Homo sapiens: one gene and its partners. The protein of the gene in region 6 interacts with the protein of the main gene of each other region in a biochemical or structural test. Each region holds a gene or a part of one and is shown on either strand. Other genes may lie near its edges. The genes, in order: ARRB2, USP30, EIF4B, MFN2, MAGI1, PRKN and MAGI3.

Region 1 (4,330 bases), on a different chromosome or scaffold from region 6:
CAGAGCAGGAGGCAGTGTCATGCGTGCACAATGACCACCACATACGCCCCACTTCCACGGGGGACACTGGCCTACCCTCGGCCCCACCCTGGCATCTCGACAGTTCACCCTCTGGCTCAGCTGTGCCTCCAGGCTCCTGCTGGCCCATGTCCTGCCCTAGGAGCCCTCAGAGCTGTTCCTCCCGTACCTTTCCTGTATCCTCTGGGCCTGGCTGCAGTGTGACGGAGCATGGAAGATTCTGGGGTATCTGTGGCGGAGGAAGGAGAAGACTTCAGTTCTTCCAGAAAGCCCCCAGATCTTCCTCCAAATCTCAACCTAAGAGGCTGGAGACGCTGGGTGTGGTGGCTCATGCCTGTAATCCCAACACTTTGGAAGGCTAAGGTGGGCGGATCACCTGAGGTCAGGGGTTCCAGACCAGCCTGACCAACGTGGCAAAACCCCATCACTACTAAAAATACAAAATTAGTCGTGTGTGGTGGTGCGTGCCTGTAATCCCAGCTACTCGGGAGGCTGAGGCATAAGAATCACTTGAACCTGGGAGGCGGAGGTTGCAGTGAACCAAGATTGTGCCACTGCACTCCAGCCTGGGCGACAGAGCGAGACTTTGTCTCAACAACAACAAAAAAGAGGCTGGAGAAAGGACTCCTGGGGATGAGAAGGGAAGAAGGAAGGGGCCCCAGAGAGGAGGCAGATAATCAAGGGCTTCCTGAATGCACTGGGACCCTGAAGGGAAGTGGATCTAGGGTCCCTGCCTCACTGTTTCTTCCAGATCTGCCCACAGCAGTGCCTTACCCCCACCCCAGACACAGTCCCAGCCCCAGCCCCCTGGCCCTCAGAGGGCAGGGGCATCCTCACGGTGAAGAAGAAGGGGTGGGCATGCTGGCCCAGCTTCCTCAGCAGCCGGTCCTGCAGGCGGGTGGGGGGCCGGGGTGGGTTGGGCACCGGGGGGAAGGCCTGGTAGGTGGCGATGAACAGGTCTTTGCGGAAGGACAAGCCCAGCACATCCAGGTCTTCACGGCCATAGCGGAAGGCGCAGGTGAGGGTCACAAACACTGGCAAGGGAGGGTGAGATGAGTGGTCAGGAGCCCCACTTCCCCAGTCCCCTGGCACCTAGCAGCCGCTGCTCCTCCCTCAGCAGCATAAGACTTGCCTGAACCCTACTCCTGGCTTCCACCTCCAGCCTCCATCTCTCTGGGGCGCCCTTCCAAGGCCAGCCCATTTCACTTCCCTAGCCCCCACTTTCCCTGGGCCCCCTGGACTTGGGGCCAGTACCTTTGCGGTCCTTCAGGTAGTCAGGGTCCACAAGCACCACGCCATCTAGGAGGGGGACACACCAGCTCACTTCCTGAAAGGGCCGCTCCCCGCTTTCCTGGGCCCGGGAACTTCTTCCCCTCTTGGGGAACGAGCTGTCCCTTTCTGGGAAAACTTACCTACAGGGTCCACTTTGTCCAGGTGATCTACGAAGTCCCGCTTGCCCAAGTACACGGTGAGCTGAGGATGTCAAGGGGTCACAGGGGAGATTGGGGAGGATGGTGACAGGGCATCGGAGCCCTCAAAACTGGCTGCCCTGCCCGGGGATCTCCAGGCTGGGCTATCAGGAAGGAGTTGTTCCAGGTTTCCTCCCAATAGTGTTGGAAAGTGAGGGTGGTGGCGTTTCTCAGACTAGTGGACCTTTAGGCTTTTGAGCTGCTCCTTTATCTCTGCACACCTCTGCCCACCAGCCCGGTGTGTGTGTGTTTGTGTGTGTGTGTGTGTGTGTGTGTGTGTGTCCTCAGCCAACCAGTCAGGTGTGTGTGTGAACATGTATGTGCATGTGTGTCTGTGTGTGTCCTCAGGGAGGACTCAGCCCAACCAGCGAGGTGTGTTTGTGTGTGTCCGTGTGTGTGTGTGTGTGTCCGTGTGTGTGTGTTTGCATCCTCAGGGAGGACTCAGCCCAACCAGCCAGGTGTGTGTGTATGTGTGTATGTGTGTGTGTGTCTGTGTGTGTGTGTGTTTGGATCCTCGGGGAGAACTCAGCCCAACCAGCCAGCTAGAGAGCAGCTGCCACCCTCACTAGGTCCCCTCAAGGGGCTCTAGGATAAATAGGCCATAGCCCGGGGGCTGTTAGGTTTTCCCAGCCCCACGCACCTTGGGTTGGCTCCTAGGAGGGCTACAGGCACATGGCTTGCTTTTGGCCTCCTCCTCTGTGGTCTTGCTTGGGGACCCAAGCCTGCCCCACCCAGCCCTGTGGCTGGCTCAGGCTGAGCAGCCTCTGCGGCAAGGGGCTTCAGGAGGGAAGGAAGTCGGCGCTTAGCTGTCACAGGAAGTGGGGAGCTAGGGGTTGGGGATCATCTTTGGGTAGGTTGGGGATCGTCTAGGGGAAGGCTGGGCTTTGTTGGGGCCCAGGGAGGGTCAAAAGGGTAAGTGCTGTGGAGACTCACCTTGCAGTTAGGGCTCGACTTCTTGAAGACCCTAACAAAACAGAAAGGGAAACCCCACTGCCTCCCTCAGACTCAGCAGGGACCCCACACCAGGACCCTCTCCCTCCCAGGCCTGAGAAGCAGTGCTCACCCAGGCCTCCTGCCTGAGGCTGTGGGGCTTTGCCCAGCTCTGCCCCTTTCCCCTTCTTCCCGGAAGGTCCTTCCTATTTCTAACGTGGTGGCAAGGGGAACCCTTCTTCCCGGAAGGTCCTTCCTATTTCTAACGTGGTGGCAAGGGGAACCCTTCTTCCCGGAAGGTCCTTCCTATTTCTAACGTGGTGGCAAGGGGAACCCTTCTTCCCGGAAGGTCCTTCCTATTTCTAACGTGGTGGCAAGGGGAACCCTTCTTCCCGGAAGGTCCTTCCTATTTCTAACGTGGTGGCAAGGGGAACCCTTCTTCCCGGAAGGTCCTTCCTATTTCTAACGTGGTGGCAAGGGGAAATGCCCCTTGTCTTGTCCACCCTCATTCGTCCCCTTCCCTCCCCAGTAATGGCCACTGGTTGCCCTAGGAACCACCCAGGCTCTTCCCAGAGGACCCGAATGGGCAGGTAGCCACAGTGTCTGGATAAGACCTAACCATCTTTCCATCTGGTCTACAGCTCTGACAGCTGGAGCATATAGGAGAGCAATGACCCTGGCCTTTGGCCCTCAGATAGTTTCTACCACAGGCCCTACCCAAGTTCGACTCTACTCACCTCCAACTGTCCCCAACTCCGACCTCAAGAGCTTAAAAGCCTATTTGTCTTTTAAGGCCCAGCCTTTAGGAAGCTGACCCAGCCCAGACCCTGGTCGCTCCTTGTTTTGGGTTCCTGTCACACCTTGTTTATGTTTTACTTGTGGTGTGGTAGCACACAAGGATAGTTAGCTCCCTCCCTCCTCAGACTGTGAGCCTCAGAGGCCTTATTAATTTAGGCATCTCCAGCACAATGCCAGCCATATCATGAAGATGGTAATGCTGCTAACATTTCAGAGTGACTACTCCATGCCCAGCACTGTTCCAAGTGTTTCAAATGTGTCATCTCTTGTAATACTCTGTTTTTTGAGACAGAGTCTCACTCTGTTGCCCAGGCTGGAGTGCAGTGGTGCGATCTCAGCTCACTGCAACCTCCGCCTCCCAGGTTTAAGTGATTCTCCTGCTTCAGCCTCCTGAGTAGCTGGGATTACAGGAGTGAGCCACCATGCCCGGCTATGTTTTGTATTTTTTTTTTTTTTTTGGAGATGGAGTCTCACTCTATCACCAAGGCTGGAGTAGAGTGGCACGCTGTCAGCTCACTGCAACCTCCACCTCCTGGGTTCAAGCGATTCTCATGCCTCAGCTTCCTGAGTAGCTGGGATTAGAGGTGCCTGCCATCATGCCTGGCTAATTTTTTTTTTGAAACGGAGTCTCACTCTGTCGCCCAGGCTGGAGTGCAGTGGTGCGATCTCGGCTCACTGCGACCTCTGCCTCCCGGGTTCACGCCATTCTCCTGCCTCAGCCTCCCGAGTAGCTGGGACTACAGGCACCCACCACCACGCCCGGCGAATTTTGGTATTTTTAGTAGAGATGGGGTTTCACTGTGTTAGTCAGGATGGTCTCAATCTCCCGACCTCGTGATCCACCTGTCTCAGCCTCCCAAAGTGCTGGGATTACAGGCGTGAGCCACCACGCCCGGCCGCTAATTTTTATATTTTTAGTATAGATGGGGTTTCCCCATGTTGGCCAGGCTGATCTCAAACTCCTGACCTCTAGTGATCCGCCCGCCTCAGCCTCCCAGAAGGCTGGGATTACAGGCTTGAGTCACTGTGTCTGGCCTGTATTTTGTATTTTTTTAGTAGAGACGAGGTTTCCCCATGTTAGCCAGGCTGATCTCCAACTTCTGACCTCAGGTGAT
Region 2 (4,330 bases), on a different chromosome or scaffold from region 6:
AACAAAACCGTTTGAATGAACGGAGAGCTACCAAAAGCAGGCAGAAATGGAAAAGAAGTCAACTGTTGGAAAAACAGAACTCTGTGGGCGAGATTTGTGTGTTTGTGGCTTTTTTTCCTGGTTGATGTGGTGCTGGGTGGCGAAAAGCAGCATCCTACAGGATTGAGTGGTCAGACGACAGAGTTCAAGAATCAGGGCTGGTGGAGAGACCAGGGGAAATGCCAGGAAGAAAGGAGACACAGAGGGGATGAGCCCCAAAGTTTATACCTAAACTCTGTTCAATTCCAGGGCTGATCCCTGAACCACACGTGCACAGGGGGAAACTCCAGGGAGCCTGGCAAAAAGTAGCAGCTGGAAGCTAAAAAAACTGAGCAGAGATTTTGCTGCCCAATGTAGGGGAGACAGAGTTGAGTTTGAGCCCAGCCAGGTTAACTGCAGGCCAGAAGAAAATTAATTTTTCTTCATAGATATGTAACAGAATCCCTACTCTCTATGTCTCTATTATGATGTTAAGCATACAATAAAAAATTACCAAACATAAAATACAAAGAAGTCAGCACACGAGGACCTCACAGATGTATCATAAATATGCTCAAGGATGTAAAGGAAAATATACAGTGACAGTGAATGAACAAATTGAGAATCTCAGAACAATGGAAACTATTAAAAAGAAGGCAATGGAAATTCTATAACTAAAAACAACAGTGATTACGATGAAAAATTTGTTGCATAGGCAAACAGAGATTGGAGATGAAAAAAGAATCAGGCCAGGTATGGTGGCTCACACCTGTAATCCCAACACTTTGGGAGGCTGAAGTGTAAGGATCACTTGAGCCCAGGAGTTCAGGACCAACCTGAGCAACACAGTGAGACCCTGTCTCTACAAAAAATAAAAAAAAATTAGCTGGGTGTGGTGGCACACACCTGTAGTCCCAGCTGCTCAGGGGGCTAAGGTGGGAGGATAACTTGAGCCTGGGAGGTTGAGGCTGCAGTGAGCTATGATCACATTATTGCAATCCAGCCTCGGTGACAGAGCTAAGACCCCTGTCACAAAAAAAAAAAAAAAAAAAAAAAAAAAAGAAAAAAAAAAAGAAAAAGAAAAGAAAAAAAGAGAAAAAAGAATCAGTGAACGTGAAGATAAGTCAATAGAAATGATCTAATTTAAAGAACACACAGAAGAAAGATTGAAGAAAATTGAACAAGACCTCAGTGACCTGTGGGCCAACATTAAGTAAAATAACAAGTGAAAAATGGGCATAAAATCTTTGTTGAAAAAATAACAGCCAAGAATTTTCAAACTTGGTTAAAAAAAGTACAAATTTAAGAAACTCAGCAAACCCCAAACAAGATAAATAAGATAAATACTAAGAAAACCACATCTATGCGCAGCATGAACAAAAATAAAGAGAAAATTTTGTAAGCAGTGTAAGCAGAAGAAAAACAAATGACAATTTACATAGACAAGAATGATATAAATGACACTAACTGAGAAAATGGAGGCCAGAAGACAATAGAACAATGTCCTTAAAGTGATGAATTTAAAATAAACCAAAGCAAAACCACGGCAACACTGTCAACCCAAAGTTCTATATCCAGCAGTAGTATTCTTCAAAAATGAAGGCAAGACAAAAACATTTTCATATACATGAAATCTAAGTGTATCTGTCAGCAGTACACCTATAACAAATGTTAAAAGGAAGTTTTTAGGCCAAAAGGGAAAAAACATCAAATGGATTTTGATCTACAAGAAAGACTGAGAACAAGAAAAATGGTAAACATATTTTTCTATTAATTAATTAGTAGAAGAGAAGGCAACTCTTTTTTTTTTTTTTGAGATGGAGTCTCGCTTTGTCGCCCAGGCTGGCATGCAGTGGTGTGATCTCGGCTCACTGCAACCTCTGCCTCCCAGGTTCAAGCAATTCTCCTGCCTCAGCCTCTTAAGAGAAGGCAACTCTTGCATACTACTGGTGGGAATGTAAACTGGTGCAGCTATTTTTTTTTTTTTTTGAGACTCAGTCTCACTCTGTCGCCCAGACTGAAGTGCAGTGGCGTGATCTCGGCTCACCACAACATCGGCCTCCTGGGTTCAAGCCATTCTCCTGCCTCAGCCTCCCGAGTAGCTGGGATTACAGACGCCCGCCACCAGGCCCAGCTAATTTTTGTAATTTTAGTAGAGACGGGGTTTCACCATGTTGGCCATGCTGGTCTTGAACTCCTGACCTCGTGATCCACTCGTCTCAGCCTTCCAAAGTGCTGGGATTACAGACGTGAGCCACAGCACCTGGCTGGTGCAGCTATTATGGAAAATTGTACGGAGGAGGTTCCTCAAAAAGTTAAGAACAGAACTACTGTATGAACTAGCAATACCACTTCCAGGTATATATCCAAAGGAAATGAAATGAAACACATATAACTCTTTAAAGCAAAAACTATGACACAGTATTGTGAGGTTTATAATGTATGTATAATAGCACAAAGGCTGGGGTAACAGAACTATACTTTTGTAATATTCCAGGATTTTACATGAAGTATAATATTAACTCTAAATAGAATGTGATAAGGTAAAACTGCATAACGTAATCTCTCACACACACCCTCCCCCCCCAACACAAACACACAAGAGTAAAGCTAAAAGGCCAACAAAGGTATTAAAATGGAATACTAAAAAGTATTCCATTAACCTGAAAGAAGCCAGTGAAGGGGGAACAGAGGAACAAGAAAATATGTAAGACAAACAGAAAACAAATGGTAAAATGGCAGACCTAAATCTAATCACATCAATACTTACATTAAATGTAAATGGACTAAGCATTCCAACTAAAAGATTGTCAAGCTAGTTAAAAAAGCAAGACCCATTATATGCTGTCCACAAAGTCACACTTTAAATACAAAGGCCGAAAATGACAGAAAGAAATGACCAAATAAACATTAGCTAGATTAAAAATGAATCATTCAAATAGACTTCAAGTCAAGGAGTCTTAGCAGAGATGAAGAGGGACAATTTATCATGACAAGATGAGTTAACTCATCATAATACATATGCTTGTATCCAATAACAAAGTTTAAAAAAAATTAGCAGAAATAGAGCTAAAGAAAAGACAAATTTTAGCAAACAAGCAAGAAATAATACCAATATTAAACAAAATCTTTCAGTAAACAGAGGAAGGAACATTTTCCAGCCTATTTTATGAGGCTAGTATAATCCTTATAACAAAGCCTGACAAAGACATCACAAGAGAAGAAAAGTGTAAGAACAATATTCCTCATAAACACAGATACTAATATCCTTTAGGAAATATTAGCAAATCAAATTCAATAATATATAAAAACAATAAAGCATCATGATCAAGTGGGGTTTATCCCAGAAAGGTTGGTTTAACATTAGAAAAATCAATCACTGGCTGGGCACAGTGGCTCATGCCTGTAATCCCAGCACTTTGAGAGGCTGAGGCAGGCGGATCACGAGGTCAGGAGATCGAGACCATCCTGGCTAACACGGTGAAACCCTGTCTCTACTAAAAAATACAAAAAATTAGCCGGGCGTGGTGGCGGGCGCCTGTAGTCCCAGCTACTCGGGAGGCTGAGGCAGGAGAATGGCGTGAACCTGGGAGGTGGAGCTTGCAGTGAGCCGAGATCACGCCACTGCACTCCAGCCTGGGCGACAGAGCAAGACTCCGTCTCAAAAAAAAAAAAAAAAAGAAAAAATCAATCACTGTAATTCACCAAGTCAACAGAATAAGACTAAAATATGATCATTTCAATGGATGCAGAAAAAACTGACAAAATCCAATCACTATTCATTACAAAAATTCTCAGCAAACTAGGAACAGAAGGGAAGTTTGTCAGTATGATAAAGAGGTATACTAAAACCTAAAGCTAATATCATACTTAATTATAAAACACCAAATACTTGCTTCAGAAGATTTGAAACAAAGCAAAGATGTCTGCCATCATCACTCTTATTTAACTTTGTACCATAAGTCTTAGCCAGGATAATAAGGCAAAGAAAAAAAAAAAAAAGGAATAAAGATTGGGTTGGAAAGGAAGAACTAAAACTATTTCTATTCATAAGCAACATGACTGTTTGCATACACAGAGAATGCTAAGGAATACATAACAAAACTTCTACAGCTTCTAGAAGTAATAAATGAATGTTTACAAAAATCTCAAGATATAAGGTCAATATATAAACAGCTGTATGTCTATATACTAGTGGCAAACAATTTGAAAATAAATTTTTTTAAATTCCACTTACAATAGTATCAAAATAATGCACGGAAAAAAGAGATGAATAGTCAACTTATAGATTACAGTTCCTTAACATATCTTA
Region 3 (4,330 bases), on a different chromosome or scaffold from region 6:
TTGTGATCCACCCGCCTCGGCCTCCCAAAGTGCTGGGATTACAGGCGTGAGCCACCATGCCCAGCCTAAACTACCTGTTTTCTAATGATCTATTTGCCTTCTGTGGATTGGTTAGGCCACTAACTTGAATCTCATGTAGCATTTCATAGGAGTTATATCTGAGAAATCTGGCTTTCAGCCATCAGCTTCTGGTGATTGGAAAACTATTACTTAAAGTTTCATTTAACTTAGGTCCCCCCCAAAGACCCAAACTGAATCTAAAGCCTCGGAGTACTCCTAAGGAAGATGATTCCTCTGCTAGTACCTCCCAGTCCACTCGAGCTGCTTCTATCTTTGGAGGGGCAAAGCCTGTTGACACAGCTGCTAGAGAAAGAGAAGTAGAAGAACGGCTACAGAAGGAACAAGAGAAGTTGCAGCGTCAGCTGGATGAGCCAAAACTAGAACGACGGCCTCGGGAGAGGTGTGTTGTCTTGATGGATATCCCATCTAGGAATCCGGTGGTTCGTAATGGGGGCATTACATCCCCAGGGGCATTTGGGAAATTTGTGTCGTTATCACATTAGTGGTTGTCACTGATGGGCATTTAGTGGGCTGTGGCCAGGGGTGTTAGGCAGTATGCAGTGTTAGGGACAGTTTTACACAATGAAGAGTTGTTCCCTGTCCATTACAAAAGTGTTTACTATTAAAAGCTGGTATTGTATCTAAAAGGCTAGAGACCTACTATAATAAGTAATTGCCCTGAAAAACTAGGCCTGGTAATGAGTGGCTTGTAGAACTGTGTTGATTAGTAAAGAAGGGCAGTATTGTAGATTATGTAGGATACTGTTCTTAACCATATTAGTTGATTCTTGCTGAAGTATTTAGGGCCAAAGTGTGTCTTAATGTCTGTAGCTTTCAAATAGTTTGAGGGAAAGATAAATTTATATGCATATACACATATAGATGAAGTAAGTGATGGTTCTTGAGGGGTCAGCATGGGTCTAAGGTGGCCTTCACTGAGCCAGGCATAATGTGTATTTTGTGAATCTCTCGTACAGACACCCAAGCTGGCGAAGTGAAGAAACTCAGGAACGGGAACGGTCGAGGACAGGAAGTGAGTCATCACAAACTGGGACCTCCACCACATCTAGCAGAAGTAAGTCAGACCAGGGTGGGTATCGTGTTATTGCCGTTTTCCATAAACTATCCATAACCAAATTATGCAGAGACCCTGCAATATTTAAATTCAGTCATGAACTCTTTATTTGGGTTGCATGGGCCGATTGGAGTTTCATATCTTCTGCTCCAAAGAATCTGAGGAATGGGTACCAGAGTAGACCTAGATGATCTGCTTAATAATCTACCACTGAAGTGTATACTTGGTTGTTAGGTTTGTCTCTCTCTTTTTTTTTTTTTTTTTTTTTTGGTATATTTTCATTTTATGTCTTGACATCTTTGAATGTTGTTTATTCAGAACAGTCAACGGCTTGGAGTTTCATGTGAGCTGTCCCAAGACCAGCCTTTTTTGATGTTATCATCACCAGAGCAGTGTTCTCAAGCAGTGTTATTACTGGTTGATCAAGCACTTTTAGTGTTTTGGAAACCTAAATGGTTCAATTGTAATACCTCCCTTCCCTTACCATGATGTGTTTTTTTTGTATTTTGTTTTGAGACAGGGTCTTACTCTGTCACACAGGCTGGAGTGCAGTGGCATGATGATGGCTCACTGTAGCCTCACCTCCCTCAGCCCTCAGCCTCCCTAGTAGCTGGAACTGTAGGCATGCACCACTACACCCAGCTAAATTTTTTATTTATTTATTTTCTTTTTTTTTTGAGACCGAGTCTCGCTCTGTCGCCCAGGCTGGAGTGCAGTGGCGCGATCTCGGCTTACTGCAAGTTCTGCCTCCCGGGTTCATGCCATTCTCCTGCCTCAGCCTCCCGAGTAGCTGGGACTACAGGTGCCCACCACCACACCCAGCTAATTTTTTGTATTTTTAGTAGAGATGGGGTTTCACTGTGTTAGCCAGGATGGTCTCAATCTCCTGACCTCATGATCCACCCGACTCGGCCTCCCAAAGTACTGGGATTACAGGCGTCAGCCACCGCACCCAGCCTACACCCAGCTAAAATTTTGTAGAGATGGTTTCCCCATGTTGCCCAGGCTGGTCTCAGCCTCATAAAGTGCTGGGATTCCAAGGGCCAGCCACTGTGATATTTTTTAAGGTCTTTCCTCCCACCTCTAAATTGATTTGTACTTGCATTTCATTCATTTATTTATTTATTGAGATGGAGTCTCGCTCTGTTACCAGGCTGGAGTGCAGTGGCACGATTTTGGCTCACTGCAACCTCTGACTCCCTGGTTCAAGCAATTCTCCTGCCTCAGCCTCCTGAGTAGATGGGATTACAGGTGAGCGCCACCATGCCCGACTAATTTTTTGAACGGGCTGGTCTCAAACTCCTAACCTCATGATCCACCCGTCTCGGCCTCCCAAAGTGCTGGGATTACAGACGTGAGCCACCATGCCTGGCCTTCTATTTTTTTTATTTTTTATTTTTGTATTTTATTTATTTATTTTGAGACGGAGTTTCGCTCTTTTTGCCCAGGCTGGAGTGCAATGGCATGATCTCAGCACACTGCAACCTCTGCCTCCCGGGTTCAAGTGATTCTCCTGCCCAAGCCTCCCGAGTAGCTGGGATTACAGGAGTCTGCCACCAGGCCTGGCTAATTTTTTGTATTTTTAGTAAAGACGGGGTTTCACCATGTTGGCCAGGATTGTCTCCATCTCTTGATCTTGTGATCTGCCCGCCCTGGCCTCCCAAAGTGCTGGGATTACGGGCGTGAGCCGCCGTGCCCGGCCTAGTTTTTTATTTTTAAGACAGGGTTTCATTCTCACCCAGGCTGGAGTGCAGTGGTGCGATCATAGCTCACTGCAGCCTCAAACTCCTGGCCTCAAGCAATCCTCTTGCCCCAATATCCCAAGTAGCTGTTATACGACGGGTGCACGCAACCATGCCTGGCTAAATTTAAAAAATTTGTTTTTTTAGAGATGGGGTCTCACTACACTCCCCAGGCTGGTCTCAAACTCCTGGCCTCAAGCAATCCTGCCTCAGCCTCCCAATGGGGGCTCCTTGTTTTTAGAAGACACTTAACTGCATTTTTTAAAAAACGCACGTGTAGGTTGTTGTTTTTTGAGATGGAGTCTCACTCTGTCAGCCAGGCTGGAGTGCAGCAACATGATCACAGCTCACCTCATCATTTCTAGTAGCTGGGACTGCAGGCACATGCCACATCCAGCTAATTTGTCTATTTTTTGTAGAGCTGGGGTTTCACCATGTTGTCCAGGCTGGTCTGAAACTCTTAGGCTCAAACGATCCGCCCCCAACAGCCTCCCAATATCCTAAGATTACAGGCGAGAGCCACTGCACCCAGCCAGTAGGTGGTTTTTCATAAATATGATTGCATCATAGTCCATGTGTGTTGAGTTTTAAGCTGAAGTTGAGCAGTGGTTACTAGAGTTTGGGGTTTCATTGTAGGTCCTCTTCACATATGTATATTCTCCAGGTCAAGACACTTTTAACATTGAGAATGCAGAAAGGCTGTAAAGGATACTCATTCCTAAAAAGGTCACATGGCTGGGTGTCCCTTAAGTTGTATACATGGTCATTATTTTTTCTATTTCTCTGTGCATCAGTAAGACATTGTTCTGGAAATACTTGTAAACCACTGGTTTAGGGATAAATCCATCTTTGGGAGCCAAAACTTGGATGTGGACCATTTTCCACACTGTTGAGATCCTGGTAGATGCGTGAGCATCTGCAGCCTGATAATTTGATATTTTCACTCTGGCTTCACAGATGCACGAAGGAGAGAGAGTGAGAAGTCTCTAGAAAATGAAACACTCAATAAGGAGGAAGATTGCCACTCTCCAACTTCTAAACCTCCCAAACCTGATCAGCCCCTAAAGGTAATGCCAGCCCCTCCACCAAAGGAGAATGCTTGGGTGAAGCGAAGTTCTAACCCTCCTGCTCGATCTCAGAGCTCAGACACAGAGCAGCAGTCCCCTACAAGGTGAGTCAGTTTGGAAACAGTAGTTGGTTAACTGCAGATTCTAAAATACTGTGATGTAATGATGGAAGATCTCCTACGGGATGCCAGCGTTGTATAGCACCTTATAAGTTATGCTGGCTTTAGTCTCTTAGTGTGCTGGAACTGGCTCATAAGACCTAGTTGTTCCATTTTCTGGAGTTCCACCACTTTGATAGCTTGAAATCAGCTATGATGGGAGTACTAATGCCGCACAAATCTGCAAATACTGTAAGTCAGAGGCTTCCCTTTTGCCACATATTGGCA
Region 4 (3,720 bases), on a different chromosome or scaffold from region 6:
GGAGGTCCAAACTGGAAGGCACCAGGTTTCCATTTCTGGATAATCTAGGCCAGGGTCCCTGGGCCCCATCCTTGCTCTGCTTAAGTATTACTACCTTTCAGATGGGCTCAACCAAATCCTCTGGCCTCTTGGCTTTCCTCTGGAGTCTGGTTACTATACCTATTTATCAGTACCCTGCAGATGTCCCAGGGATGGTCTGTAAAAGATAGGAGGGATGCTCAAAAGTTGGTGGGGGAGGTTCTCAATCTCAGCCCAGTGCCAGCATGTGTACTGGGGGTGGGGAGTTGTGGCGGAGTCAGAGGTGTATTTTATTTCCCTTGAAGAAACACTTTGCCTTGGCTTGGTGGACTGGTTATAACTATACCAACATGTACAGTATTGTAGTGTTTATCTGGACTCACATCAAGTCACAACTTCACCTTAATTGTATATCATCTTTTTTTTTTTTTTTTTTTTTTGAGACAGAGTCTTGCTCTGTCACCCAGGCTGGAGTGCAGTGGTGCAGTCTCGGCTCACTGCAACCTCCGCCTCCCGGGTTCAAGTGATTCTCCTGCCTCAGCCTCTGGAGTAGCTGGGATTACAGGTGCCCGCCACCATGCCTGGCTAAATTTTGTATTTTTAGTAGAGACGGGGTTTCACCATGTTGGCCAGGCTGGTCTTGAACTGCTGACCTCATGATCCGCCCACCTTAGCCTCCCAAAGTGCTGGGATTACGGGCATGAGCCACTGTGCCCCGCCTGGTATATCATCTTTAAAGTAGAATTACAAGTAATTCTGTTTTTATAAAAGCAATAGATATATGTGTTTAAAAACACTCATTTCTGCCAGGCACGGTGGCTCATGCCTGTAATCCTAGCACTTTGGGAAGCTGAGGCGGGCAGATCAGGAGGTCAAGAGATCGAGACCAGCCTGACCAACATGGTGAAACCCTGTCTCTACTAAAAATACAAAAAAATTAGCTGGGCATGGTGGTGCGTGCCTGTAGTGCCAGCTACTTGGGAGGCTGAGGCAGGAGGATCGCTTGAACCTGGGAGGCGGAGGTTGCAGTGAGCCGAGATCGTGCCATTGCACTCCAGCCCGGGCGACAGAGCAAGACTCTATATCCAAAAACAAAACAAAACAAAACAAAACACTCATTTCCAGGCAATCTGGAAGGATAGGAAATGGGAAGTAAAATCCGTTAATGAGGGCCAGGCCTGATTTCTCTCCCGTCCCTGGCTTTCTCCTCCATGACCTGCCTGCCTCACAAGTCCCAGGTCTGTTCTCAGCAGGAAGAATAGGGCTCCTGCTCTGCCTGATGATTTGGTTTACCCCTGTCACCTTTAGCCCTGGTATTGATGTCACCACAGAGCTGGACAGCTGGATTGACAAGTTTTGTCTGGATGCTGATGTGTTTGTGCTGGTGGCCAACTCAGAGTCCACCCTGATGCAGACGGTAACTCCTCCTCTGCCTTCTCCCAAGCTCCCAGCACCCCCTGGGCAGGCAGCTGATGGGGCCTTGGCTGTCAAGCTCCTGCTCCACCGAGGTCTTACCCTTTATCTAGGAAAAGCACTTCTTCCACAAGGTGAGTGAGCGTCTCTCCCGGCCAAACATCTTCATCCTGAACAACCGCTGGGATGCATCTGCCTCAGAGCCCGAGTACATGGAGGAGGTTCGTGCTTCTGTTTGGCAGTTTGGGGAATGCAACCCCGAGGGAGCACTGCCTGCCACTGGGGCCACTTCCTGCACCCCTGGATCTAGTGACTTCCCTGAATTAATTTTATTGCCAAAGAATTCTCCAAATACTCTTCTGTGGTATCTTCTGGTGGTCTTTCCCCTCTCCCATCCACTTTGCTGGATGCACCCCCTCTTCAAGCCACTCTCCCCTAGGCCTAAAAAGGATCCCTGCTGCATTAGTGCATCTTCAGTGCCGGTGCTCAGTTTGGTTTCTGAGGAATTAATACAGAACAGGCTCAGCTCTAGGGAGGCCTCTGGGAAAGAGGCTGGAAAGAGGAATGGAGAATAACTGGTTCTTACTGGTGACTTACAACTCTTAGCTATTTACTTATTTATTTAGAGACTGGGTTATGAGGCTGGCTAATTTTTGTATTTTTGGTAGAGACGGGGTTTTGTCATGTTGCCCACGCTGGTTTTGAACTCCTGGGCTCAGGTGATCCACCTGCCTCAGCCTCCCAAAGTGCTGGGATTACAGGCATGAGCCACCACGCCTGGCCTCACAACTCTTTAAATATGTGAAATGAAAGACAAAAGGGTAACAAACGGCATGGTGGTGCACACCTATAGGCTGAGAGAGGATCCCTTGAGAGTAGGAATTTGAAACCACCTTGGGCGACGTAGCAAAACGCCATCTCCAAAAAAATAAAGGGTAGGCCGGGCGCGGTGGCTCACGCCTGTAATCCCAGCACTTTGGGAGGCCGATGTGGGCGGATCACGAGGTCAGGAGATCGAGACCATCCTGGCTAACGTGGTGAAACCCCGTGTCTACTAAAAATACAAAAAATTAGCCGGGTGTGATGGTGGCAGGCGCCTGTAGTCCCAGCTACGCGGGAGGCTAAGGCAGGAGAACGGCGTGAACCCGGGAGGTGGAGCTTGCAGTGAGCTGAGATTGTGCCACTGTACTCCAGCCTGGGCAAGAGAGTGAGATTCCGTCTCACAAAAAATAATTAAACAAATAAAGGGTAATAAGATTGATAATATGGCAATATGGGATGATAAAACATGCAGTTGCAGTCAGTAGGCCAGAGTCCAAATTATTTATTTTTTTCGAGATGGAGTTTTGCTCTTGTCACCCAGGCTGGAGTGCAGTGGCACAATCTCGGCTCACTGCAACCTCCACCTCCAGGGTTCAAGCAATTCTGCCTCAGCCTCCCGAGTAGCTGGGATTACAGGCACCCGCCACCACACCTGGCTAATTTTTGTATTTTTAATAGAGATGGGGTTTCACCATGTTGGCCAGGCTGGTCTTGAACTCCTGACCTTAAGTGATCCGCCCGCCTCGGCCTCCCAAAGTGCTGGGATTACGGGCGTGAGCCACTGTGCCCGCTTGTGACTGACACTAGGCAGTGTGACTTTGTTAGCTTCCTTGACCCTTCTGGTAATCCAATTTCCTGGCCAGTGTGATGGTGTGATAAATAGACTTGTTGAGAGGATGAAATCTGTCAAAAACACCTGACACGTGGTAGGTGTCTACAAGAAGCTATTGTCACATTTTATCGGTAGAACCCCAGGATGTCAGAGCCAGGAGGGATGTTCTAGTGATGCCCACTCCTTTTATAAACAATGCCCCAGGAGGACACAGCTTGTCAGAGTATAGGTCCCAGATTTAGGTTTCTTGACCTCAGGGTTCCTTTCCTGCCAGGGCACCAAAATGAGGCACTATATAGGCTTAACAAGAGGCAGTCTAGGGCACGTTTAAGCATTTCTGCTTGTATATGCATAAAATATCTTTGGCACGCTCACTGCCAAGTAACCCCCACACGTTGGTCTGGGAAACTTGGTGGTGAGAGAGCAGAATAGTGGGGGACATTACACTGTGTATGTGTTTGTGCCTTTGGCTGTTGAGCCATGTGAATATATTGCCTATTCTTTTTTTTCCCTCACTCTGTCGCCCAGGCTGGAGTGCAGTGGTGCTATCTTGGCTCACTGCAACCTCCGCCTCCAGGTTCAAGTGATTCTCCTGCCTCAGCCTCCTGAGTAGCTGGGATTACAGGCGCCTGCCA
Region 5 (4,330 bases), on a different chromosome or scaffold from region 6:
TTGGTATAACAAAGGTATCGAACAGCAGGTCTGAGGAAAGCTCAGCAAAGCTCAGAAGCCTCATGCAAGGTATTAGGGAAAGTTTAATTTGTTCGTTGTAAGAGCCAAAGGAAAACAATCAAAGACCAAATTGTGAGTGTGAATACAATATTCATTATATAACACATAACCTGCCACTTGACATATTTGCTATTTCTTTCTAGAAGGTGAAACTGACAATTCTGAAATAGTTAGGAACGTCACAGGATGCATGGAGACAGTCAAACTGTAGATCTGAAGAAAATAATTTGGGATTTCTTTCTCCCCTCTTCCTTCTCTTTATTTTTATATTAAGCAAGAAAGTCTCTGAAATTAATTTTAAAACAAAACCAAAAAACCTTGCTTTGATGTCAGGTCATCCATCCATGACATGCTATGATGACTTTATTAATGTAGCTCAAAAAGCACTGTTAGTAATAGGCGTTTGTTACTGCAGCCACACATGCATAGACCTGGCTGAGTCACTGTCCCCTGTTAAACATAAAACTTACGGGGAGACAGCTCCAGCAGGAAGCAACACACCAGGATTAAATGGAGGCCAAGTGAGCTCTACTGGATGAGAATGCTAAAGGGTTGTAGCACCTTGCTGATTCTAGCCAGTTTCCATGTGGATAAGTCATTCAGGGATAGAGCTGAGGTACATGAAAAGCCCACACAGCCTGCACAGCCCTTCCCCTTCTCCCATTGTATTCCATAGTAAGTAACAAATGTGCTTGGGAGATAACAAATGACTTTTTACCCAATCAGGAAGGTGGATCATTTTTGGAGTGTACATCTATAATCAATCCATTGCAATGGGAAGCAGATTCATATATCACTAGTTTCTGCAATCATCTGGGTTTCTATTGGTCTTTGCTAGTGTACCCAGAAGAGAGTGAATCCTTCTGAGAAAGTGACAACTGTGTTTCTCCATACTTTGCTGAAACCCTCAATGTCTGGACGAGACAGGAAAATCGAATGACTCTTAACTCAGATTTTAACCAGACTTTAAATCAAGCAACAGTAAAAATATTATTTAAAATTAAAAAAAATTCCTATGGGGATAGAGTAGAGAAAGAACACAGATGAGGCAGACTAGCATCTCATGTAGTATTTTTACTCCTTACACCTCTGTTTTTCCTAGAGCATTTTTACAGCCGTATGCTCCTTGTAAAAACTCTTAAGACATTCTTAAGACCATTCTGAGGCCCTTGCAATTAGTGCTATCCTATTCAAGACCTTTCGAAAGCCTTGCTTTGGCAAAAACTGTAGACTCTGTATGCTGTCCAGGGGTTCCTATTCAAATTTCTTTTCTTTCCTTTCCTTTTCTTTTTTTTTTTTTTTTAAGACAGAGTCTCGCTGTGTCACCCAGGCTGGAATGCAGTGGCACAATCTCGGCTCACTGCAACCTCCACCTCCCAGGTTCAAGCGATTCTCTTGCCTCAGCTTCCCAGGTAGCTGGGATTACAGGCATGCACTACCACGCCCAGCTACTTTTTGTACTTTTAGTAGAGACAGGGTTTCACCACGTTGGCCAGGTTGGTCTCAAACTCCTGACCTCAAGTGATTCACCCTCCTCGGCCTCCCAAAGTGCTGGGATTACAGGCGTGAGCAACAGCGCCCGGCTGCTATTCAAATTTCACGCAAATCTGATGTATGCTTTAAGTTGTGTATGCGTGATCACATTCTCAGTGTGGAAGTTGAAAGGGTTGAACAAATATTCCCAACCTTCAAAAGGGAAAAAGCTACCAAATCAACTCCATCTCCAATTAAGTCTTTAATTACCCAGAGCAAGAAGCTATAAAGCATTTCTGCACGTGAGGTCTGAGTCAGCTTTCACTCGCAAGAGAACAAAAACTCCCAGGCATGGTGGGAAACCCTGGGTAATTTCACGTTCAGCACTCACCAAAGGTCGTGCCTGCTTCGGGCCTGCTCACCGAGGACACGATGACGAAGCCGAAGCCCTCGTTCTCCCCGCGCCGGATCTCCACGTCGTAGGGCTGCACCACGGTGCTGACCACGCCGCTGCCCCCGCCGCCGCCACTGCCGATGCCGCTGGTGCTGCCGCTGCCCGAGCTCACCGTGTTCAGCGAGTTCTGGCTGCCCTGCGGAGTGCGCTTCTCTTCTGTCAGCGAGGCCGGCTGGTTGCTACTGTGATGAGAGGAGGCTGGCGAGGGCACCTCGTTCTCGGTTTTGGGCACTGTAGCAGAGAGATGCACGCGTACATCACCGTGTCCTGCAGCCCCTCCATCCTGCTGCCCCTCCCTCCTTCCAGCAACTCCTGCTAGAAATCAAAACGTGAACCGAGGGGAGGAGACAGCACCTGGTTTCACAATACCTGGATATACGGATTGAAAGCAGCTTCTCTTGACAAATATTAACCATTCAGTATCTACGAACATTGATCCCACCTAACACCAAATGGGACTCCCAAATAGCGTTTGTTGTTTATAGCATGCTATATGTCGACATCCACACTCAGAATCAAGTCTGCAGCAAGATCGGCCTGCTGTGAAATATTTCCCCATTGCACAAAGGGAAGGGCCTAAGCGTAGGTGAGGGCTACACCCGTGAAGACCGCCATCTTGGCTTCATAGATACAACCTTGGATGCACGTTCACATTGTCATTACTTTCCAGTCACATTTCCACCCAGCTTTTTCCATCAGGCGACAAACAGTAAGGTGATGGTAACGTTGAGGCTACCCGCCCTATGTGGGGTTCATGACAACACCTGTGAGACATACACATGCTTCTCTTCTTAGCTTCCAGGTGTCAACATCGACTCTGATCACAGAACTGGATACACTGGCCTCCTTCTGAATTTAGTCACCGTTCTAGTGTTACCATCAGACTGCAAGGTAAAGCACTCCTAAATAGCCAACACCGTAGGTGGAACCAACTATGCCAAAAAACAAAATGTGTGTTGTGTCCAAGTTTTGGATCAGACTGTATTTATTTCCAAAAGCTTCTCTTTTCATAGATTGTTTTAATTTTGGAAAAATAAGCATAACAAATTTTTAAACCATTTTTAAGCATACAGTTGAGTGGTATTAAGTGCATTCACATTTTTGTGCAACCATCATCATCATCCATCTCCAGAATTTTGTCATTTTCCCAAATTGAAACTCTGTACTCATTAAAAACTAATTCCCCTTCCTATTTCCTCCACCCCCCACCAACCATCATTCTGCTTTCTATCTCTATAAATTTGACTACCCTAGGTATCTCATATAAAGGGAATCAATATTTCTCCTTTTGTGACTAGTTCACTTGCATAATGTCTCTTCATAGATTTGACACGCCTTTTACACAGAGCTAAAAATCCAAAATATTTAAGATTTAAAAAAATAAACCTGAAACAACAAAAAAAATCACATTGCCTTACTATTTCTATTTGGGCCAGGGAAGCGAGATAGTTAGTTTTCATCTCATCTCAAAAACTCGTTCCAGCTGACTGCTTTTAGCTACATGGAATAGTATGTTAAGAAGGATTGTGAGGTCACAAACACACTGGAATTTAACATCTTAATTCTATAATTAATCATATACCATTTAAAATGGGTTATACTCTTTTTTTTTAAAAGAAGTTACCAATTAATTTTATCTGACAGGTATCTGTTTCACTAATATGAATGCCAAGAGAATTCATAATATTTCAGGTCATATTTCTCCAGTAATTCCACTGATAGAAGACAATCACCTCTGCTGCACTCTGGGTTCTGCCTTAAAGGTTTCAAGGTGGGAGCTGCATCCAAAGGTGAACAACCAAGGTGTGTTCAACGTGAGCTTTCAAGGGAAAGGACAAACACTCACACAATTCACTGTCTCAAAATGGCAGATTCTGATACAGCAGTAAACCATGAGTCACTAGAATGGCAAGGAGGGAATGCTAAAATCTGAAGGCAGTTGGAGGAAGGAGGAATTTCCAAGGGAAGAAAGTTATATTTGAGCTGAGCCTGAAAGGATATGTAGTATTTTGAGAATTAAAGTTCAAAGCTTATGGGCAGGAAGAAGGAATCAAAGCTGACCTAGAACTGGCCAGCTCTACAACTTTCTTGTAGAAAGAAAAAAAAAAAATCTTGGTTTAATACATAGGACAGTAAGAAATCAGTAACTTTTTTATGAGCTTATTTTGTAGCACAAACCCGATTTTTGTTCCCTTGATATGAAGCTACAACTCTTCTGACTTTCATAATGACCTCATTTGCTGAGGATTAGCATCAAATGAAGAGGATGGCTAAGTTCTGATTTGCAAGGAGATAGAAGGGAAGTAATATATATTCAACTAGCCTTCCTCTGGAAGCCTTTGT
Region 6 (4,330 bases):
TCAGCACAGAGGACGGCCGTCACCAAAGGGTCCCTTCTGTTACCCTTTCACAGTCGTACCCTCCTCTCACCTGCTTCCACCCCCTTCAGAACTGCTGGGAAGCATGAATCTGCCCTCCATTTCTATCATTTTGTCGTTTTGAGAATGTTATATAAATAAAATTATTCAGTGTACGATCTTTGGGGATGGGCTTTTTCCACACAGCACATTTCCCCTGAGATCCATCCAAGATATTTTGTATATCAACAGTCGGCTCCTTTTTTACTGCTGAGTAATATTCTAGGGTGTGGAGGTACCAGTTTGTTGAACCACAGATCCACTGAAAGACATCAGAGTTGTTTCCGTGTTCTGCTAATGTGAATAAAACTGCTATAAACATTCATATACAGATTTGTGTGTGTACCTACGTCTTCATTTCTCTAGGATAAATAACTAAGAGTATAACTCTGTCATCTGGTAAATACATATGTCATTTTTTATGAAACTGCTATATTCTTTTCCAGAGTGGTTCTACCATTTTATATTCCCAGTAGCAATTTGCGAGTAATCCAATTTCTCCACATCCTCACCAGCATTTGGTGTTGTCTTTATTTTGTATTTTAATTTACCTACTTTACCTATTACTCTAGATATTTCTTTATACATTCTTAACTTGTCATGCTCTACTGCAGTTGCTATTTTGTAGGTCAAGTTTAGAAATCTTACCTTTCCTTGCATCTGTGTTTATGTTTGCCTGAAATGTTTCTTCTACATGTAGAACTACATTAGACAATGCTATAACTTTTGCTGCAACCCTCTAACATAATTTAGAAAACTCAAGAGGAGAAAAACAGTGCATTGTATTTAACCATATTTTTGCTTACTATGTTTTTCCCTCCTTCCTAGTGTTCCAAAATTCCTTTTTTTGTTGTTTCATTTGTTTAGAAAATTTCTTTAGCCATTCTTTTAGGGTAGGTCTGCTGGTGACAAATTCGCTTAGTTTTTCTTTATCTAAAAAAAAAAGTATTGATTTGTTCTTTCTTCCTGAACGACATTTTCACTGGGTATAATATTACAGGTTGGCAGTTCTTTTCTTTCAGCATTTGAAAAACATTGTGCCACTTCCTTCTAGCCTTCATGGTTTCTGATGAGAAATCCACTGTAATTAGAACAATGTTAGCCCTATAGGGAAGGTGTGATATTTCTCTGGCTTCTTTCAAGATCTAAAATTTGTCTTTAGTTTTAAGAAGTTGAATTACGTTGTGTGTTGGTGTGGGTTTCTTTGGGTTTTTCCTGTTTTAGATTCACTCAGCTTTATAAATCCATCTATAACTTTATGTCTCTTGCAAACTTTGGAAGTTTCCAACACTTATTTCTTTGAGCATTTGCCCACCATTATCTTCTCCTTCCAGGAATCCCCTGACACAAACTTTAAATGCTCTGTTGGAGAACCACAGGTCTCTGAGGCTCTATTCCTTTTTTCTTTTTCCAGCCTACCTTTTCTTTGCCATTTGGACCGTGTCATTTCTATGTTCCAACTTCCAGTTCACTGACTCTTTTCTCTGTTCCTTCCATTCTTATGTCAAACCCATCAGTGAGTGTTTTATTTCAGAAATTTCAAACAAGAGGCTCTCCACTCAGCCTTTACTAGTGTTGGTGGGGACAAGGATAGGGCCGCAGTTTTTCTGTTGCATTTGGCTGGAGTAGACTGGTTATTGTCTAAATGTTTTCTATGTTGCTAGGCAGCCCCTTTCTGAGTCCTCTGGATAAAAAACAGGCCATTGTTGGGGATTTCTTCCTTCCTTCCTTTCTTCCTTTTCCCTTCCCTTCCCCCTTCCTTTACCCCTCCCTTCTCTCTCTCTCTCTCTCTCTCTCTGCCCCTCCCTTCCTCTCTGCTTCTTTTTTCTTCTCTTTTCTTTTTGTCTATATATGTTGACATTTCCTGGTTGCCAGCTTCTTCAGTTCCACATCTGAGGTAACGTAGCAAAAAGAAAACTCAAGAAATTCACCTCTGGATTCTTCCTTGGGTTCTAAAATCCCTACTCTGTCCACATTCTTCTCACTACTTTCAGAATCTTCCTAAGCTTGTACAGCGGACCCTTGAATAACATGGGTTGAAACTGCATGGGTCCATTTATATGCAGATTTTCTTCTGCCTCTGCCACCCCTGAGACAGTGAGACTAACTCCCCCTCTTCCTCTTCCTCTTTAGCCTACTCAACATGAAGACAAAGACAATGAAAATCTTGATGATCCACTTCTACTTAATGAATAGTAAGTATCCTCTCTCCTTTTTGTAATGCTGTTAATGTTTTCTCTAGTTTTTTTATTATAAGCATACAGTACATATTACATATGAAAAATATGTATTAATCAACTGTTCATGGTATCAGTAAGGCTTCCCGTCAATAGCAGACTACTGGTAAAGTGTGAGGGGAGATAAAAGTATACATGAGTTTTGTCTACATAGCGGTTGGCACCCCTAACTCCATGACTCCACGAGTCAACTGTACAATATGCAATGTCTAGGCTTTTTAGTGTAGTTGCTGGGAGGAAGAGGGAAAAGTATGCCTACTCCAGCTTCCCAGAAGCAAAATCTGTGCCAGATCATTCGTTTTCAATGTCTATATTTTTTCCATTTTCCTTTAATTTTTTAAAGTTCTTAAAGTCTTGCCAATAACAAAACTGAACAGATGAGTGTGTAATGAAAATAACTATACTCTAACAGTGCTTCTCTAAGTGGCCTGTGGATATGCTCTCCCAGAACTGAAAATTCTATGAAAATTTTTTAGATGTGACATCAATTCTATTATAATCTTACAAATACCCTTTGCCAGTTAAATAGACAAACTCGCTTTTTAAAATTATGACATTTCATAAGACTGTGGTCTCAAGCTATAGTTCCCCAAAGTACCTGAGGTGAGGCACTAAAACTAATTTCCTCCTCAAAGAAGGTGAAACTAAGTGTGAGAGATACTGCTCAGTATGTGGGGTGACCATTGCCTCAGTTTTCCTAGGACACTCCCAACATATAATTTTGTCCTGGAATAATTATTGACAGGGTCTTCTTTTATACTCACAATATCTCATTTTGCATGATAAGCTAATATATATGTTCATATCACCTATGATAAAGAATACGAAACCAGGAGGAAGACACCCAGCAAGCATAGACACCACCCCAGCCATCTCTTCTTCTCTTCAGGACACCAAGGTGTATATTTAACATTCATTAATGGAAGCATTAAGTAGCTCATATGGAAGGTCCATCTTCTTTTTCTCAGCAGCAACTTATTATTAGATATTTTGTGCTTATACTGTGAAATATAGCACCTGTAATGATAATGGGTAACTAAATGATATTGACTAAATAGTTGTAAACATATGTTCTAAGATTATACAAGAATATCTAGGATGCTAAAATTCTGCCAGTTGTACACTTAAAGAAAACATAGCCATCAATTTGCAATTACATGTGTAACTTCCTAGTCTTTACAGTGAAACTCTTCTATGAACAAAGTTTGCCAACTTCTCGGCACCTAAATCATTTAACTGTGATTTAATAGAAGTTCCATAAGTATGAACCTTTCTTTTTCAGTGTCCTCAGACACAAGTTCTCAACAGCCAGCTAGGCATCTCCAAACACACGTACTCAGCTGGCATCAACTCCCATCATGTTGGAACAATGCAGCATCCTTCCCCCAACCAAACCGGGTCTTCAGACTTCCCATTTCCTTCTATGGCATGACATTTTTCTCTAGTTCCCCACCAATGAAACTTCAATGCCAAGTTAGTCAAGGTTATGTGAAATATAGCCCATATTTTATTTTTTGTCCAATCTTCAACATCTCTCTTCAGGTTCTAGAAGAACAAGAACCCATCCTTTTTGGCAAGCATTCTCTATGCTCATTCCCCTATTCCTCCATCTACAGAATCCTACCTCAACTCAATTCATCCAAGAAGTTCTTCCTGGTGACTTCCAACCAGATGTGTTTTCTCCACCTTTAAAACTTCATAATATTTTCAGGTGCGATACGGCAGTTATGTTTCATATTCTTATATTATAGCTATTAGGTTGAACAACATGAAATTGTTGAACCTGTAAAAATGGCAATCCCATATGGTTCAATCTAATATTTCTCTCGGTTTTAGGGCTCATAAATAAAGAGCAGTCTCCATGAAAACAGGGGCTGAGTTAGGTCTCTCTTTTGGATCCCCTGAGAAGCCTAGGACATTGGAAGTGCTTAAGAAGTGTTTGTCAAAATAGACTCATAAATCAACACATGTCTTAGGCATATATGTTTGCAAAGTCAATCATCTGAAGCAATTAGTCTAACTACATATGAAATCGC
Region 7 (4,330 bases), on a different chromosome or scaffold from region 6:
GAAAACAGGAGAGGTTAACTCTAATTTAGGTTATAAAGATGGCACTGTGAAAACCCTGTCTGGCCAATTCACATATATTAAGAGAAAATGTACCATGCAAGACAATTAGATAAGGGAAAGCATAGTAGCATATTTTGATATTTTTCCTATTCAGCTAGAACTTTCCCAAGATAACAGCCAAGCAAAATGACTTATTTAATAAAATGTTAACAATGAAATCCAATAAATGGCCTAAGAAATATGGTTTTGAGACCAGCTCGTTTTCCTGGATTATTGTTAGGAGAGGGAGATTATGGATGTTTGTGATCATTAACAATGACTAGAATGCAGGGGCACCAGTCTGTCAGGGAGTAATCAGGGGTCAGCCACTACAAAGTGTCGTGCTAGAGGGGACCCTTCAATCACCCAGACCCAATGAGAAGGCAGAGAAGCTAACAGTAGTCTCCTACCCTTCCCCATACATCTTAGCATTCTGTCAGAGGCGGTTAAAGTTCATCAGACCCTTCCATCAATTATAAAGCATTAGGGCCACTGCGACTGCAGTGGCATCCATTATGAAATAAATATGGTGGCACAGGAGTTAAAAATGATTACTAGAGGAACCAGAGAAATGTAGAATACAGTGCAATTTGAACTGAATGGACAAAAACAATTTCTGTTCACACTGGACCCAAGTAGTATAAGCAGTCAATGAAAAGGGCAGAAGCTGGCCGGGCGCAGTGGCTCATGCCTGTAATCCCAGCACTTTGGGAGGCCGAGGTGGGCAGATCACCTGAGGTCAGGAATTTGAGACCAGCCTAGCCAATGTAGTGAAACTCCATCTCTACCAAAAATATAAAAATTAGCTGCGTGTGGTGGCGTGCACCTGTAATTCCAGCTACTGGGAGGCTAAGGCACAAGAATTGCTTGAACCTAGGCGGCAGAGGCTGCAGTGAGCCAAAATCACACCACTGCATTCCAGCCTGGGTGATGGAGTGAGACTCTGTCTCAAAAAAAAAAAAAAAAAAAAGGCCAGAAGCTGAGGGATTCTTTTTAATCTATAAAACAGCAAATTTGCAGAGGATTCCTACTTGGTGGGCTAGAAAGAACTAATTCATTTAATATAATTGTCTATAGTTTATGGTTATGGAAGGCCATCTTTTGATTTTGAGATAAAAGACTCCAAAGGAGCAAACTAGAACTAAATTAGAATTTTAAATAAAATTGTCTTTATATCCAAAACATTGTGGATATTTAAATAGCTACAAATGTGCACCTTGTAGAGTTTCTTCCACAACAGCAGCATTTGATGCACTCCTTTTTAAAGTTCTTATTCTCTGCACAGGTCCTTAAACAGGCTACGTGATTATTTAGAAGAATGCCAAAGAAGACACTGTTTCAGGTCTTTCACTTTGACAACAAGCAAATTTAGCATAGAAGGCCACAATTACTCTAGAAAGTCTTGTTTAGTCAGCCGGACGTGGTGTATCATGCCTGTAATCCCAGCACTTTGGGAGGCCGAGGCGGGCAGATCATGAGGTCAAGAGATTGAGACCATCCTAGCCAACATGGTGAAACCCTGTCTCTACTAAAAATACAAAAAAATTAGCTGGGTGTGGTGGCGTGCACCTGTAGTCCCAGCTACTTGGGAGGCTGAGGCAGGAGAATCGCTTGAACCCCGGAGGCGGAGGTTGCAGTGAGCCGAGATAGCGCCACTGCACTCCAGCCTGGGCGACAGAGCAAGACTCCGTCTCAAAAAATAAATAAATAAATAAAAAATAAATAATAAAAAAATAAGCCTAATTTAGTCTTAAAAGTAAGAAGATTATCTAAAGGTGCATGCATATTTATAGTCCCCACAAAATTATGTGAACTAGTACGTCTTCTCTTCAGGCAGGGGCAAGACGATGTAATAGTTTATCATCTGTCTTAACATTTAGGTCCTTCCTACCTTGTTTCTCTGAAACACAAAAGTAAAAAGACCTCTAGGTTGGTTCTTTAATGTGTTCACATTTTATAACTTAGAGAACAGGATTATTGGTACAATAGGCCTTTAGTAATCCTCCAGTTGCAATACTTAACCAGTGGAGCACATCTCCTCACTAGGGGGCTTTTTCAAACGCTTCCCTAGTTTCTAATAAATACAAGCCAAGGGCAGCATGCCTCCTAACTTCTCCCAGTCGATAATCATCACCACAGTGAGCTCCTCTTACAGAGGGGAATGTGGCATCTCTCTCAGTGTGTTGGGGAAAAGATTTGAGGACCAGTGTATACTCACCATTTTGGCAGTTTTGGTTGGTGAAGGAGGACCTTAAAAAAAAAATGAACCAAAGTTTAAAACCAGAGGATGCATTCCCAGATCACAAATACTGCTAATGTTTACGATAAAACTAGCTTCAACTTTTAGTACGCTAGTAAATTCTGTGTCTAACCTCCTATGTACCAGGCATTATACATATATTATCTCATTTCATTTTTATAACAATCTGAAGGCACAAATGTTATGACCATCTTACAGAGAAGGTAAACTAAGATTCTTTCCTATACCAAAGAACCAGTAAGTGGCAAGGCAGGAAACTGACATCAAACCTGTGTGACATTGAACTTTGGTGTCTTTGTTATACTTGTTGAAGCCCTGGATTACTCTCAAGCACTCACAAAGAGATTTCTACCTTACTTGGAGCACATTCCACCATCACTCAGAGAAGAAACCCATGTGAATCAAAGAAACGAGAATAAGAAACAACTCCCAAAGAAGCTGAAGTGCTCGTTTGCCTCAATAGTGAAAAGTAAAATCCAGAGAGATAAAAGAGTAAGTGGCTTTTATTCTTTAAGATACTAGTCACTTATAAGTATGGATTTAAGAAAGCATATTAAAATTCAACTTTGTGATTATTCCTTGGAACTGAATTTGTAAATGTCTGGGAGGAGTTCATGTCAGCTGATGACCTTGGAAAATAAAAATTATATTTCTCTCACATAAGCACTGTGTGGTTTAATTAACATTTACAGTCAGATACTAGAGCTTAAGATGAAAACTTTATGAGCACATGCTATCATGATTGCCTCTGCAGAACAGATTAATACACCATCCAACATTTTACTTATCCACAGAGATGCTAGCTCTTTCAAAACATCTTTGGTGCATTACAGAGGTCCAGATGACACACCATTGGTTGAAAGAGTCAATTTCTATTACTGTCATCAACAGAGAAATGAAATTAAGAGGATGTATTTCATTTGAAGTATCACAATGCTGTGACTCTCTCTAATCATTAAAGCCATGAATCAGATTTTCAAAAGAATACAGAGGGAAATAAATCCATAATGGACATGAATGAAATCACTAATAATTTTTTAAAAACTGCTGAAAAAGACACTGCTTATGGAAACAATCAGACAGAACCTTAAGGAAAATGCACACTAATTACTAGTTAAGTCTGCTGGGAAAACACATTCTAAACTGTAAGGAAAGACAATCAGTAGATATAAACGCTTGAACACTGAAACTTTTTCTATGTTGTGCTTTTACTTACCTCCTCTTAAGATAAGCAATGGTACATCAGCACCTACTGGAAACTGCTTTAGCACCTCTACCACTTGGAGATGTGTTAAATTCTGCACATTTTGATGGTATATTTCCTTAATTATATCTCCTTTCTGAAGGCCTTGACACCACTGACTATCCAGTATCATTTTCACCTTCTGTCCAGTAGGGCTGTCAGCAATTGCAAACCCAAACCCTTTAGGGCCCTTAATCAAAGGGATAGTCACTAGTTCAGGCTGGGAGCTGCCTGACGATGCCATGGATACTCTCTGCTCACTTGCATCTGATGGTCCATTGAGACCATCACCAGTCAAAGTGTGTCCCGATTTTCCATTCTGCTCCAGAACCATTGCTCCTGGCTTAAAATCCTGAGGATTCATGCAAGTCTCTCCCTTGGTTAATGACTGTCCATTGATGACAGGGGTAGCAGCAACAATGTCCACAACAGGATCTTCACTGTCATCAGGAAGTGGATAACCACGACATAAAGTGAGGTTTACATACTGATTGACAGGTACCAATTGAAACATCTGGACAACATCTGCATGAGTGTGACCGAGGACACAGTTGCCATTGATGTCTACAATAACATCGCCTGGAAAAACATAATCATGTTAAAAATATTAAAATCAACAAATAAGTTAATTTTTTTGCTAGAGGGGCAAAAATAACTACAATTTAGCAACTAAATTTGAATTTTGGAAACCTCTATTAACTGCTGAAAAGATAGATTTCTAACACAGACCTTCTCCCTTTTCTAACTCCTCTCTAAAATGTATGTATAAATGTCTAAAATCCTACTTA

What was found.
Region 1: the proteins of PRKN (region 6) and ARRB2 form a complex in vitro, tested with the Homo sapiens proteins (one study listed by BioGRID).
Region 2: of the proteins of PRKN (region 6) and USP30, one has a biochemical effect on the other in vitro, tested with the Homo sapiens proteins (one study listed by BioGRID).
Region 3: of the proteins of PRKN (region 6) and EIF4B, one has a biochemical effect on the other in vitro, tested with the Homo sapiens proteins (2 studies listed by BioGRID).
Region 4: of the proteins of PRKN (region 6) and MFN2, one has a biochemical effect on the other in vitro, tested with the Homo sapiens proteins (2 studies listed by BioGRID).
Region 5: the proteins of PRKN (region 6) and MAGI1 interact in a test that uses a peptide from one of them, tested with the Homo sapiens proteins (one large-scale study listed by IntAct).
Region 7: the proteins of PRKN (region 6) and MAGI3 interact in a test that uses a peptide from one of them, tested with the Homo sapiens proteins (one large-scale study listed by IntAct).

What each region holds. Positions count from the first base shown.
Region 1 is NC_000017.11:4,713,134-4,717,463, reverse strand, and holds part of ARRB2 (beta-arrestin-2), read right to left. Parts: intron 2,478-4,330; exon of another isoform or gene 2,452-2,477; coding exon 2,421-2,451; intron 2,279-2,420; exon of another isoform or gene 2,128-2,278; intron 1,492-2,127; coding exon 1,431-1,491; intron 1,318-1,430; coding exon 1,273-1,317; intron 1,053-1,272; coding exon 856-1,052; coding exon of another isoform or gene 793-855; intron 248-792; coding exon 188-247; intron 1-187. UniProt on the Homo sapiens protein: Functions in regulating agonist-mediated G-protein coupled receptor (GPCR) signaling by mediating both receptor desensitization and resensitization processes.
Region 2 is NC_000012.12:109,076,101-109,080,430, reverse strand, and holds part of USP30 (ubiquitin carboxyl-terminal hydrolase 30), read right to left. Parts: intron 1-4,330. UniProt on the Homo sapiens protein: Deubiquitinating enzyme tethered to the mitochondrial outer membrane that acts as a key inhibitor of mitophagy by counteracting the action of parkin (PRKN): hydrolyzes ubiquitin attached by parkin on target proteins, such as RHOT1/MIRO1 and TOMM20, thereby blocking parkin's ability to drive mitophagy.
Region 3 is NC_000012.12:53,033,575-53,037,904, forward strand, and holds part of EIF4B (eukaryotic translation initiation factor 4B), read left to right. Parts: intron 1-231; coding exon 232-460; intron 461-1,037; coding exon 1,038-1,135; coding exon of another isoform or gene 1,136-1,150; intron 1,151-3,834; coding exon 3,835-4,048; intron 4,049-4,330. UniProt on the Homo sapiens protein: Required for the binding of mRNA to ribosomes. Functions in close association with EIF4-F and EIF4-A. Binds near the 5'-terminal cap of mRNA in presence of EIF-4F and ATP.
Region 4 is NC_000001.11:11,997,444-12,001,163, forward strand, and holds part of MFN2 (mitofusin-2), read left to right. Parts: intron 1-1,326; coding exon 1,327-1,435; intron 1,436-1,544; coding exon 1,545-1,652; intron 1,653-3,720. UniProt on the Homo sapiens protein: Mitochondrial outer membrane GTPase that mediates mitochondrial clustering and fusion. Mitochondria are highly dynamic organelles, and their morphology is determined by the equilibrium between mitochondrial fusion and fission events.
Region 5 is NC_000003.12:65,377,337-65,381,666, forward strand, and holds part of MAGI1 (membrane-associated guanylate kinase, WW and PDZ domain-containing protein 1), read right to left. Parts: intron 3,791-4,330; exon of another isoform or gene 3,713-3,790; intron 2,219-3,712; coding exon 1,925-2,218; intron 1-1,924. UniProt on the Homo sapiens protein: Plays a role in coupling actin fibers to cell junctions in endothelial cells, via its interaction with AMOTL2 and CDH5. May regulate acid-induced ASIC3 currents by modulating its expression at the cell surface.
Region 6 is NC_000006.12:162,437,511-162,441,840, forward strand, and holds part of PRKN (E3 ubiquitin-protein ligase parkin), read right to left. Parts: intron 1-4,330. UniProt on the Homo sapiens protein: Functions within a multiprotein E3 ubiquitin ligase complex, catalyzing the covalent attachment of ubiquitin moieties onto substrate proteins. Substrates include SYT11 and VDAC1.
Region 7 is NC_000001.11:113,641,702-113,646,031, reverse strand, and holds part of MAGI3 (membrane-associated guanylate kinase, WW and PDZ domain-containing protein 3), read right to left. Parts: intron 4,122-4,330; coding exon 3,516-4,121; intron 2,290-3,515; coding exon 2,258-2,289; intron 1-2,257.